Homo sapiens: one gene and its partners. The protein of the gene in region 3 purifies or fractionates together with the protein of the main gene of each other region. This does not show direct contact. Each region holds a gene or a part of one and is shown on either strand. Other genes may lie near its edges.

Evidence for each region.
Region 1: the proteins of HERC4 (region 3) and ZC2HC1A fractionate together in Homo sapiens (co-fractionation; one large-scale study listed by BioGRID). This does not show direct contact.
Region 2: the proteins of HERC4 (region 3) and SMO purify together in Homo sapiens (affinity purification with western blotting; one study listed by BioGRID). This does not show direct contact.

Annotation. Positions count from the first base shown.
Region 1 is NC_000008.11:78,686,499-78,690,237, forward strand, and holds part of ZC2HC1A (zinc finger C2HC domain-containing protein 1A), read left to right. Parts: coding exon 1-110; intron 111-2,723; coding exon 2,724-2,875; intron 2,876-3,739.
Region 2 is NC_000007.14:129,191,466-129,195,204, forward strand, and holds part of SMO (protein smoothened precursor), read left to right. Parts: intron 1-3,739. UniProt on the Homo sapiens protein: G protein-coupled receptor which associates with the patched protein (PTCH) to transduce hedgehog protein signaling. Binding of sonic hedgehog (SHH) to its receptor patched prevents inhibition of smoothened (SMO) by patched.
Region 3 is NC_000010.11:67,953,284-67,956,783, reverse strand, and holds part of HERC4 (probable E3 ubiquitin-protein ligase HERC4), read left to right. Parts: intron 1-1,653; coding exon 1,654-1,821; intron 1,822-2,045; coding exon 2,046-2,189; intron 2,190-3,500. UniProt on the Homo sapiens protein: Probable E3 ubiquitin-protein ligase involved in either protein trafficking or in the distribution of cellular structures. Required for spermatozoon maturation and fertility, and for the removal of the cytoplasmic droplet of the spermatozoon.

The DNA of each region.
Region 1 (3,739 bases), on a different chromosome or scaffold from region 3:
AAGGAAACATGAAGAATTCATTGCTACCATAAGAGCAGCTAAAGGCCTTGATCAGGCCCTCAAAGAGGGTGGCAAACTTCCTCCTCCTCCTCCACCTTCTTATGATCCTGGTATTTGGAATATTGTTGACAGAAATGTTCATGTGGAAAGAAAATAATGATAGAGTTTTTATAAATTTTCACTTGTTAAGCTTAACTTACAATCATGGAGTGTTATGAGGCATAATCTTTAAAATTTGGTGTAAAATGGTGGTGGTAATCTAGTCATGTAGGCTTATAAAGACATTAATTTAGAACATGGAAGTGTATTATGTTTTTATTTTAATACTTTTATTTAAACAAGGCATTATAATATCATTTAAAAATTATTATAGTAACTATTAAATGTGAGTATTCCAGGAAATATTTTAACCATGCTCACTGCGGATTGAAATGTAGTCATTCAGCAGGAGTCATATAATTATGTTGCCTGGTTCCTTGGTATCTTCTCATCTGAGATTGATATAAAAAAAATCATAATTTTCCTAAAATGTATAATTCATGTGGCTCGACTACATTTATGGCTTAAATTTGTATATTGTTAAATTTTTTCTCATTGAGCAGATAAAAGTTGCTTGAGTCATTGTTACTAAAAGCAAAGCAAGATTTTTGCAACCTTGTATGAGATACTGAGATACCGAAAAACTTAAAGTGACAAAGTTGACACTTTGACATTCCTTATTAGAGCAGCCTAAAGAGGTTGTTAATGTAACAGGGTAGCCACATTAATGCTATGTTAGTACTCTAGATTGGGATTTATTTTCTAACAAAGAGAAAGTTCTTTAGCAAATCTAGATATGATCGTTTTTGACATTTTATTGTAGAGGAGAGATATAGTATATCTACAGATATAGTAAATATCTTAGATTTTATATGCCATAAGGTTTCTATTGCAACAAATAAGCCATAGACTATATATACATAATTATATATATATTTATATATAATTATATATGTTTATATAATAAATTATATATATTTATATAATAAATTATATATTTATATAATAAATTTTATATTTACATAATAAATTATATATATTTACGTAATAAATTATATATATTTACATAATACATTATATATATTTACGTAATACATTATATATATATTTACGTAATACATTATATATATTTACGTAATACATTATATATATTTACGTAATACATTATATATATATTTACGTAATACATTATATATATTTATGTAATACATTATATATATTTACGTAAGACATTATATATATATTTACGTAATACATTATATATATTCATGTAATAAATATATATATTCATGTAATAAATTATATATATATTTATATAATATATATCTATATAATAAATATATATTTATATAATAAATTATATATATTTATATAAATATATAATTATTTATATCTATATTTTTATATATAAACTATATCTATATTTATATATAAATATATATAAATTATATATATATAAATATAAAATGAGCATGGCTGTGTTTCCGTAAAACTTCATTTACAAAGACAGGCAACAGGCAGGCTGGATTTGGCCCATGGGCCATACTTTGCGAAACCCTGTTCTAGAGTATTAATAATTAACTTATATGAATGAATGTTTCTGGTATGCTTTAACTGATCCTGGGCCTCTTTTAATACTACCTTTTATTTTCTTCATGAACTTGAGTTTTCTCTCTGCTTTGAAGATATTTAGATATTGTGTCTTAACTCTACATAGCTACATTTCTCATGTCTAATATAAGAGAGTGAGAGGGTACCAGTTCTTCAGGATCGTTTGGGCTTTAGAAGTTTTTTTAATCTTTTGGGCCTGACAAAAACAGCTTATTTCTTTCTTATGAGAGGTTTAAGACCTACTCCAGTAGTAAGGAGGACAAATTTTTGAGCTCAGATGAATATAAATTGAAAAGGGCAAACTCTGTATCAAAAAAGTAAACCTGTTAAAATAAGTTGTAAACCTGTTAAATTAAGATTCTTTTTTGACACTACCAGATTTTTACATTTATTCCCAGTGTCTCATTTAGTTATTTTACAATGCTACAAAATATGGTTCTGGAATAATTTCAAAAGAAGTTTAATTTACAGTATGCTTTGCATTTTGGGAAGATATTTTATCTTGGAAACATTTGCTGTTTCTTAAATTTGAATTATGTCAGTGAGATATATTTTAATCACTTCTTCCATCTGTTGGGACTTTTAAGAGAAAATAGCACTTTAAAGATAAGTAAACTATTTCTTGACAGTTTTCCATTTGATGAAATAAAAAATTTTAATAGATGAGCCTGTATTTTAAAATGTATTTTAACGTCATGTATTATTACTTCCTAACTAGTCTGCTATATAAAGTATGTATCCATTATAAATGAAAACATAAAGGCAAAAAAGAAATAACGTTTTTCCTCTGCTTACTCTTTTGTACTAAGGATTTATCTTTTGTTTTTTTTCCTTCACACATTTGATTCAAAGCTAGAAGAAAATTGGAAGTCATGTACCAGCAGACTTTTTTTTTTTTTAACTCTTTACTAAGTTTAGACAAGTAAAACTGGGTAGTTATAAGGATATGGGAATTTTTGCTTATCAGATGTTATTACTTATATTTTTTGAATGACTGCATAGAAACTTAAGATTTTTTAATGTCCGTTTCAAGTACTATGCTATTAATCTGTTTCCGTTTTTATCTGTTATAGATTATATTCAATGTCCATATTGTCAGAGGAGATTCAATGAAAATGCAGCTGATAGACATATAAATTTCTGTAAAGAACAGGCAGCACGTATTAGTAATAAAGGGAAATTTTCTACAGATACCAAAGGAAAACCAACTTCTCGGACACAGGTGGTAAGTTCAGTTTTAATAATTGCTATAAACGAGAAAATGGCTCATGGACATTCATAGATTATTGTTTATGCTTTTCATGACATTAGACTATATTTTTCTCACCTGCTTTTATAGATATATAGTTTTATATATCTATAAAAGTTGTATGCTTTTAGCTCTTATATCTGTAAATCATTTCAAGCTAATTGTGTATAGTGTGAAGGGGCAATTGTTCCCTTTTTCTATGTGGATATTCTATTGTCTTAGCACGTTTTGTATATATAAAATATATAAAAACATTATATATATGTATACATGTTTTTAGATTATCGAGTGAAAGACCTTGTTACATATTCTTGGTCTTTTCTCAGATGTATATTAAGAATATTTTCTCCCATCCTGTGACTTGGCTTTCCATTTTCTTAAGGATGTCTTTTGAGGGGCAAAAATTTTAAAATGTGATTAAGTCCAATTTATTAATTCTTTATGATTTATGCTCCTTATCTTGTATCAAAGAAATCTTTGCCTATACTAGGATTGCAAAGATTTTTCTCCCATGTCTTCTATAAGTTTTATGCTTTTAGCTCTTACATCTGTAAATCACTTCAGGCTGGTATTTGTGTATAGTGTGAAGTAAGGGGCAGTTTTTCCTTTTGTTTTCTATGTGGATATTCTATTGTTTTAGCACGATTTGTTTAAAGGACTTTTCTTTCCCTGATGAATTGCTGAGGCACCTTGGTTGGAAATCAGATGAATATAAATGTATGGGTTTATTTCAGGACATGCTGTTCTGTTCCATTGATTTATATCCCTGTCCTTTAGTCAATACCGCATTATCACTATACTGAATAGTGAACCTTAATAAGCCTTAAAATCAAGTAGTCT
Region 2 (3,739 bases), on a different chromosome or scaffold from region 3:
AACCACCATCCCTCAGCTCATTCCTGTTTCCATATGTGTTCTGGTTGCACTCTTTCTGCTTGGGACTTGCAAGTAGGGCAGAAGCAGGTGTTGGCTTGAGCTGGGTAATGAGTAGGTAGAGTGAACCCAAGCCTCGTGTGAGAATCACAGCCAGGTCAGCTGGTAGCCTCTGGCAAGTGATTTATCATGTCCCGAGTTAATGATCTTGATTTTGCATTAGACAGGGTCAGTGTTACCTGGCTCTTAGGGGTGTTTTTGTGGGTGAAGGATGAAGGTGATCTAGGTTGTCTTCATCGGTAAACTCTTGAATGTAGGAACTGGGTCTTCACTTTTTTTCAAAGCCTGTGAGTACTGAGTACACAGCCATGCTTCTATTCATGCATTCAGTTATGTATTGAATGTTTGCTGTATGTCACATGCTGCGCATGTAAGGATGAAGAATACAGATATGATCCTCTGTCATCAAGAAGACAGGCTGGACATGGTGCTCACACCTGTGATCTCAGCACTTTGGGAGGCCGAGGCGGGAAGATTGCTCAATACCAGGAGTTTAAGACCAGCCTGAGACCTTGCCTCTAAAAAAAAAAAAGGAAGACAGATAATTCAACAGGCTTTGGAAATACCTGTGAAAGGTACTGTGGCATTTTAGGGTACTGAAAAAGCATAAAGGACCCAAGGAACATCCCAGAAGAACTGGCATTTAACCCATAACTTGACACATAAGCAGGAATTGCCTGGCCGAGGGAGAGTTGAGGTTTGAAGGGATAGGAAGAGGAAATAGCATGTACAAAGGTGTAGAGGTAGGAGGGCTTGGTGCTTTGAAAGAAAGTATAAGAGTTGCAGTAGAACTGGATCAAAGCGTGTGAGGGGTGGAATTGTGAGAGATAAGACCTAAAGAATTAGAAAATAAAGGGATTTATACCTCATATTAAGTTTGGATGTTATCCAGGGGATGATAAGGAGCCATTGAAAGATTTTAAGCAAGGGAGAGATGTAATTGTCTTTGCATTTTAGCTGGATCTCTTTGGGTATGGTGTGAAGAAGCCATAGGAGCAGGGAAAGCCTGGAGCCTGGCTTCTTGACCAGGGGATGTTGAAGTAGCCCAAGTAAGAGACGATGGCGGTTGGGACTGGGTAGCAGGACAGAGGGAGTGGGCAGATCCCACTAACTTTCAGAGGTAGTGCTCATAGGGCACTGATGAGTTAGATGTGGAGCCTCAGTGAGCAGGAGGCCTCGGGTTTCAGGCTTGGATGGAAGGTGGTGCCATTCCCTTTCACTAAGATAGAGAATGCTAGAGGAAGAAGAAGTTTAGGCAGGAGGTGTGGCTTTGATTTTGGCCGTGTGAATTAGAGATGCTCATTGGACATCTATGTGGAGATTCTCAGCAGATCTGGAAATAGGAATTGCTGGAGAGAGGTGGCCACTGTGTGCTTCCTTGGCCCTGACTACTGAGGCTTTGGAAGGATGCCATTGACTGAGGAAGTTTATAGCTCAGGTTGGTCCAATTTCTAGGTCTGTATAGACCTCAGGTCTTTCCTCTGTCTTTCATCTCTCTGGCCTCAGGCTTCTTCAGTCACTTAGCATCTCTCCCCTTTACAGCTGGAAATGCCTCCTCCCGGGCATTCCAAGCTGACCAGACAAACATAATGTCCAGGCCGTGGTCCACCTTAGGCCAAACCTGGTTTAGTAAGTGGGGCAAAAAAGCAGAGAGGCCTGCAGCTGGCAGTGGCGATAGGTCCCTGAGAGCCAGCACGTAGCCTCCTTAACCACTGCTGTGCTCTGTGTGGTACATAAGTGTGTGGCCCTGTCACCTTGCCCACTTGCAGGTAAGTAGGAGAGAGACAAAGGCTGGGAGGAATTTCTTGTTTGCCTCTCACACATTGAATTGAGGGCTGAGAGGAGGAATGTTTTTGGTGATGGTGGGTTATTTTCAGGGACGGATCAGGAAGAATTTCCTTAGAGCTATTTCCAAACTTGGCTGGTAATCAGAGTCAGTTAAAAAGATATATATGGCCGGGCGCGGTGGCTCACGCCTGCAATCCCAGCACTTTGGGAGGCCGAGGTGGGCGGATCACGAGGTCAGGAGATCGAGACCATCCCGGCAAACAGGGTGAAACCCCGTCTCTACTAAAAATACAAAAAAATTAGTTGGGCATGGTGGCGGGTGCCTGTAGTCCCAGCTGCTTGGGAGGCTGAGGCAGGAGAATGGCGGGAACCCGGGAGGCAGAGCTTGCAGTAAGCCGAGATCACGCCACTGCACTCCAGCCTGGGCGACAGACCGAGACTCCATCTCAAAAAAAAAAAAAAAAAAAAAAAAAAAATATATATATATATATATATATATATATATATGTATAGGCTGGGTGCAGTGGCTCACACCTGTAATCTTAGCACTTTGGGAGGTTGAGGCAGGAGGATTTCTTGAAGCCAGGAGTTCGAGACCAGCCTGGGCAACAAAGTGAGACCCCATCTCTAAAAAAAAAAATTAGCCGGGCATGTTGGCACACACCTGTGGTCCCAGCTACACTGGAGGCTGAGGCAAAAGGATCGCTTGAACCCAAGAGGTTGAGGCTGCAGTGAGCCATCCTCACACCACTGCCCTCCAGACTGGGCAACAGAGCAAGACCCTGTCTCAAAAATACATACATACATATAGATATGTGTGTATGTATACACACACACACATATATGTATAGTGAAAATGTAAAATACAGAAAAACATACATGGACCTAAGTCTTTTTTAAAAAAAAATTATCTTTAATTAATTATTTGAGAAATGGGGTCTTGCTGTGTTGCCCAGGCTGGAGTGCAGTGGCTATTCAGAGGCTCACTCATTGTGCGCATGGTGCTTATGGTGCCTGGAATAGCTGGCACTACAGGCATGTGTTCTGTGCCAGCTCAAGTCTTCAATTTTGCTTCAGATCTTTAACTTTTTAATTGTGAAATATAACTGTATGCAGAAAACTGCATAAAACACAAAGGTACTGAATAACAAATAATTATAAAGTGACATCTGGGTCAATAACTAGACCACAGTCAGACCCCTGAAGCTCCCTCTGTGTCTTGTCTAGTCACATCCCCCTCCCCTTGCTCAAGAGGTTTTCAGTAATCACATCCTTTTTTTCTCTATGGTTTTACCTCCTAGTTTTGGAATCCATAAGCAGTATATTTCAGCTTTGCATGTTTTTGAACTCTGTTCAAATGGAATTTGTACAAAATAATATGCTGTGCATATTATTTCTTGCTTCTTTTACTTTATATCATTATGTAAGATTCATCCATGTTATTGCAGCTTATTTCTTTTTTGCTTGTTTATTTGTTTGTTTTTGTTTTTTTGAGACAGTCTCACTCTGTCACCTAGGCTAGAGTGCAGTGGCGCGATCTCGGCTCACTACACCTCCACCTCCTGGGTTCAAACGATTCTCCTGCCTCCGCCTCCCAGGTAGCTGGGACCATAGGTGCACGCCACCAGGCCTGGCTAATTTTTGTATTTTTTAGTAGAGACAGGGTTTTGCCATGTTGGTCAGGCTGGCCTCAAACTCCTGACTTCAGGTGAGCCACCCGCCTCATACTGCAGCTTATTTCTTCATTGCTGAATAATATTCCATTATATGAGTATACCCCCAGTTGTTTACCCATTTTATTGTCATCTCAAGTTTTTGCCCATTGCAAATAACATTGCTGTGAGTAGTCTTTTATGTATATCCTAGTACAACTGGCACAAGTTCCTTCAGGTAT
Region 3 (3,500 bases):
GGTACACAAAGTACTTTGGGTAGCTATAAAGAAGACTGCTGCATGTGATATGTATATTCTTATGAGAACATTTATAAAAAAAGGTTGCAGTGAAAATGGAATAACTTAACCTATAATCATTTTATATATTAAAAATTGTATAAGCCTCTTTCATTACAGAAATATTCAATCTTTATAAACCGTTTTACTAGTTTACTTGATAAGATGTTGGTTTGTTTCAAAATCTTGTTTCATTATATGTCCCCTTTTTATATGCTTGGTAAGAGATGGAAGTCACTAGAGGTGAGAGATGTTAAAAGTAGGAAGCATTTGATCTCGTTAGGAAGAAGATGTGAAATTTCCTTGAAGAAAGTTTCAATAATAAGGTATTAAACATGTTCCTGGGGTTGGTCACCATTATCTCCTATTCCTCTTTCTTTTCCCCTTCCTATCACCCTTTCCCATCCATTTTATGTTGAGAGTTCTTTCATTTATAGAGAGGATTTTTTAAACTAATTCATATTATGACTTTAAAGGGTTACAGTAAGTTTGCTTTATCATTTGATCCTGTAAATAAAAAAGATTTTGAGCTGCTTCCTCTGGTATAGAATATCTGACTATACCAACTAAGGATTAAGGAAAGGATGAAAAGAAAGCTTGAATATTTAATAGTCTAAAAATATTTTAAAAAATTAAAAACCTTCAAATCTTGGTAACCATTTTTATTCTGTTCAAATAAATGCATTTGGTATTCTAAATATTTTTGTAGTGTTCTATACTAACAGCTAGTAAGCCAATTTTTTGGAGGTCTTTGTTAAAACGATAAGTTAATAACTTGGTGATTTTACCATGGGATATTCCATTTTAGAACAAGAACTCAGGGAGAACCATAATAAAAGAACAAAAGTTTTAAATGGTAAAAGTCAAATCCTTGGTTCGTGAGCACATACCATGATCACTTAGTTAAGTGAATTTGTGTAATGCTTCCTTAGCCAGATCATTCCTTATTCTTTGTTTTTTATTTTTTATTTTTGAGACGGAGTTTCGCTCTTGTCGCCCAGGCTGTAGTGCAGTGGTACAGTCTCAGCTCACTGGAACCTCTGCCTTCCAGGTTCAAGTGATTCTCCTGCCTCAGCCTCCTGAGTAGCTGGGATTACAGGCACACACCACCACGCCCTGCTAATTTTGCATTTTTAGTAGAGACAGGATTTCACCATGTTGGCCAGGCTGGTCTTGAACTCCTGACCTCAAGTAATCTGCCCTCATTGGCCTCCCGAAGTGCTGGGATTACAGGCGTGAGCCACTGCGCCCAGCCTGTTCCTTATACTCTTTAAAGGTTTGTTTTTGCTCCTCCCTCTTTACCCTCCCCTCCAGTGAATGTTTTTTAGAAAAACCAATGCTCAGATTTATCAGTATTACTACCGTTCTGTACTGGCTTACTCTAATGGTGTTATGAGTTATACATTATACATTAGTATAAAAACATTCAAAAGGGTACTCTTTATGCTCAGTTTATTAAGTTTTATGCTGTACGGGATACTGTTAGGTGCTATGTTAATTCAGTAGCATAGGAATTATAGAATACCTGTAACTAATAGGTAGAGGTTAGCTTGTTTCAGTCACAGTAGCTTTATTGTAGCATTGCTGTTAAAATGTTAATCTTTTGTTTTCCAGATGGCTATTGATCAGGCCCACAGGCAGAATGTCTCCTCTCTTTTTCTCCCAGTGATTGAATCTGTGAATCCCTGCTTAATTCTAGTGGTGCGTAGAGAAAATATTGTAGGAGATGCAATGGAAGTCCTTAGGAAAACAAAGAACATAGATTACAAGAAGCCACTCAAGGTAATTTGACATTTTCTGTGGTATAATTGGGACTTTTATTCAGAAGCTATGTTTAAAATTTTCCTATTTGTTTTTAGTGAATCTTTTAAACTTAATAAATAAAATTATATTTATTTTAAACTATTAATTGTAGAGTATTAGTAATAAATAACATGTTCTAGGGTCTCCAGAATGTACTTTCATTTCTTTACAGTCTATTTGGTGTTTGCATTGTGCTATTTTAGGTTATATTTGTTGGAGAAGATGCTGTGGATGCAGGAGGGGTGCGCAAAGAATTTTTCTTGCTCATCATGAGGGAATTATTGGATCCTAAATACGGCATGTTTAGGTATTATGAAGATTCCAGGCTCATTTGGTTTTCTGATAAGGTAAAATGTCCAACCATCTAAATTACTTCTGTGTATATACCCATGTATTTATACCTGTATGTATCAAGTTAATTCAGTAAATAAGGAATTACTACTGGATCCCTAACATATAAGATCTGCTTTATTACAATTTGAGAAATTATAAACTTTGGACTTGGAGTTGTCAAAATACATTTGATGCTTACCACACATTTTAAATTAACAAAATAAATTAAGAGATGGTTAGCCAGAAAATAATGTTGACTATTCCTTCTGCTGATTTCAATTTGAGGATTGAATAATAATCACCAGATTAACTTTTCTGTTGGGAAAAATTAATTTATCATTAGGGATCATTGATTTATCTACCTTGTCATTTAGAGCAGGTCAGCAGACTATAGCCCATTAATCTCAAAGAAAAAAAAAGTCACACCCACTCTTTTACCTATTGTCCAAGGCTACTTTCATGCTACAATAGCAGCGGCAGAGTTTAAGTAATTACAACAGTGACCTTATGTCCAGGAAACCCCAAAATATTTGCCATCTGGTTCTTTATAGAAAGTTTGCTGACCCAATTTAGTGATCATAAGTGAAAAGGATGGATCAGTTTAGTAGAACTCCTGACTTGAAAGAAATTTAGATAGAATAGCTATTGGTTGTAAAAACCTCAATGTAATATTTAATCATTCTGCCTGGAGGTTGGCTGTCTTGTGTAATGTTAGCAGCTTAGTGCCTAGACTCTAATTCATCAGGGGTTGCAAAATGGTGTGCTACTCTAATATTTCTTTTTCATTTATTAGCTTGGATACTTCTGTATAGAGAAATTTCCTCACGTTTTCTGATTCCTTAGTAGTGCAATTCATAGGAAAGGATTCTATTTAGTTACCAATTTTTCAAAAGAATGAATTGGTTCATTAGCATAGTCCACTGGTAATAATTCATTTTTTGTGTTTTGCTTTCAAGTATCATTAGGTATTCATAGGTTTAAACATACTTGATGTTTTTCAATTCACTGCAGTTATTGTCTTCATTGATGCTCATATTGTCCCATCTTTGTTCAAGGAGAGCTCTTAAGGTTGGTGCCCAAGTCCTTTTGAAACAACCTATATACTTTTTGGTACCTTCCTTGCTACCTTGTGTACTTACTATGACAGAATGTTCCAGACTTATCTTACACATTTACTGCCTAACAGTACCAACATTACCACCAATATTATGATTACTAAAATGTTTTAAATTGTTTTTCAGTTCTTTTTGTACAAAGAGTATACCCTAATATAGATAGACAGCCAGATAATATAGTTTTGATATAATTTAAAATTGTTATACTCT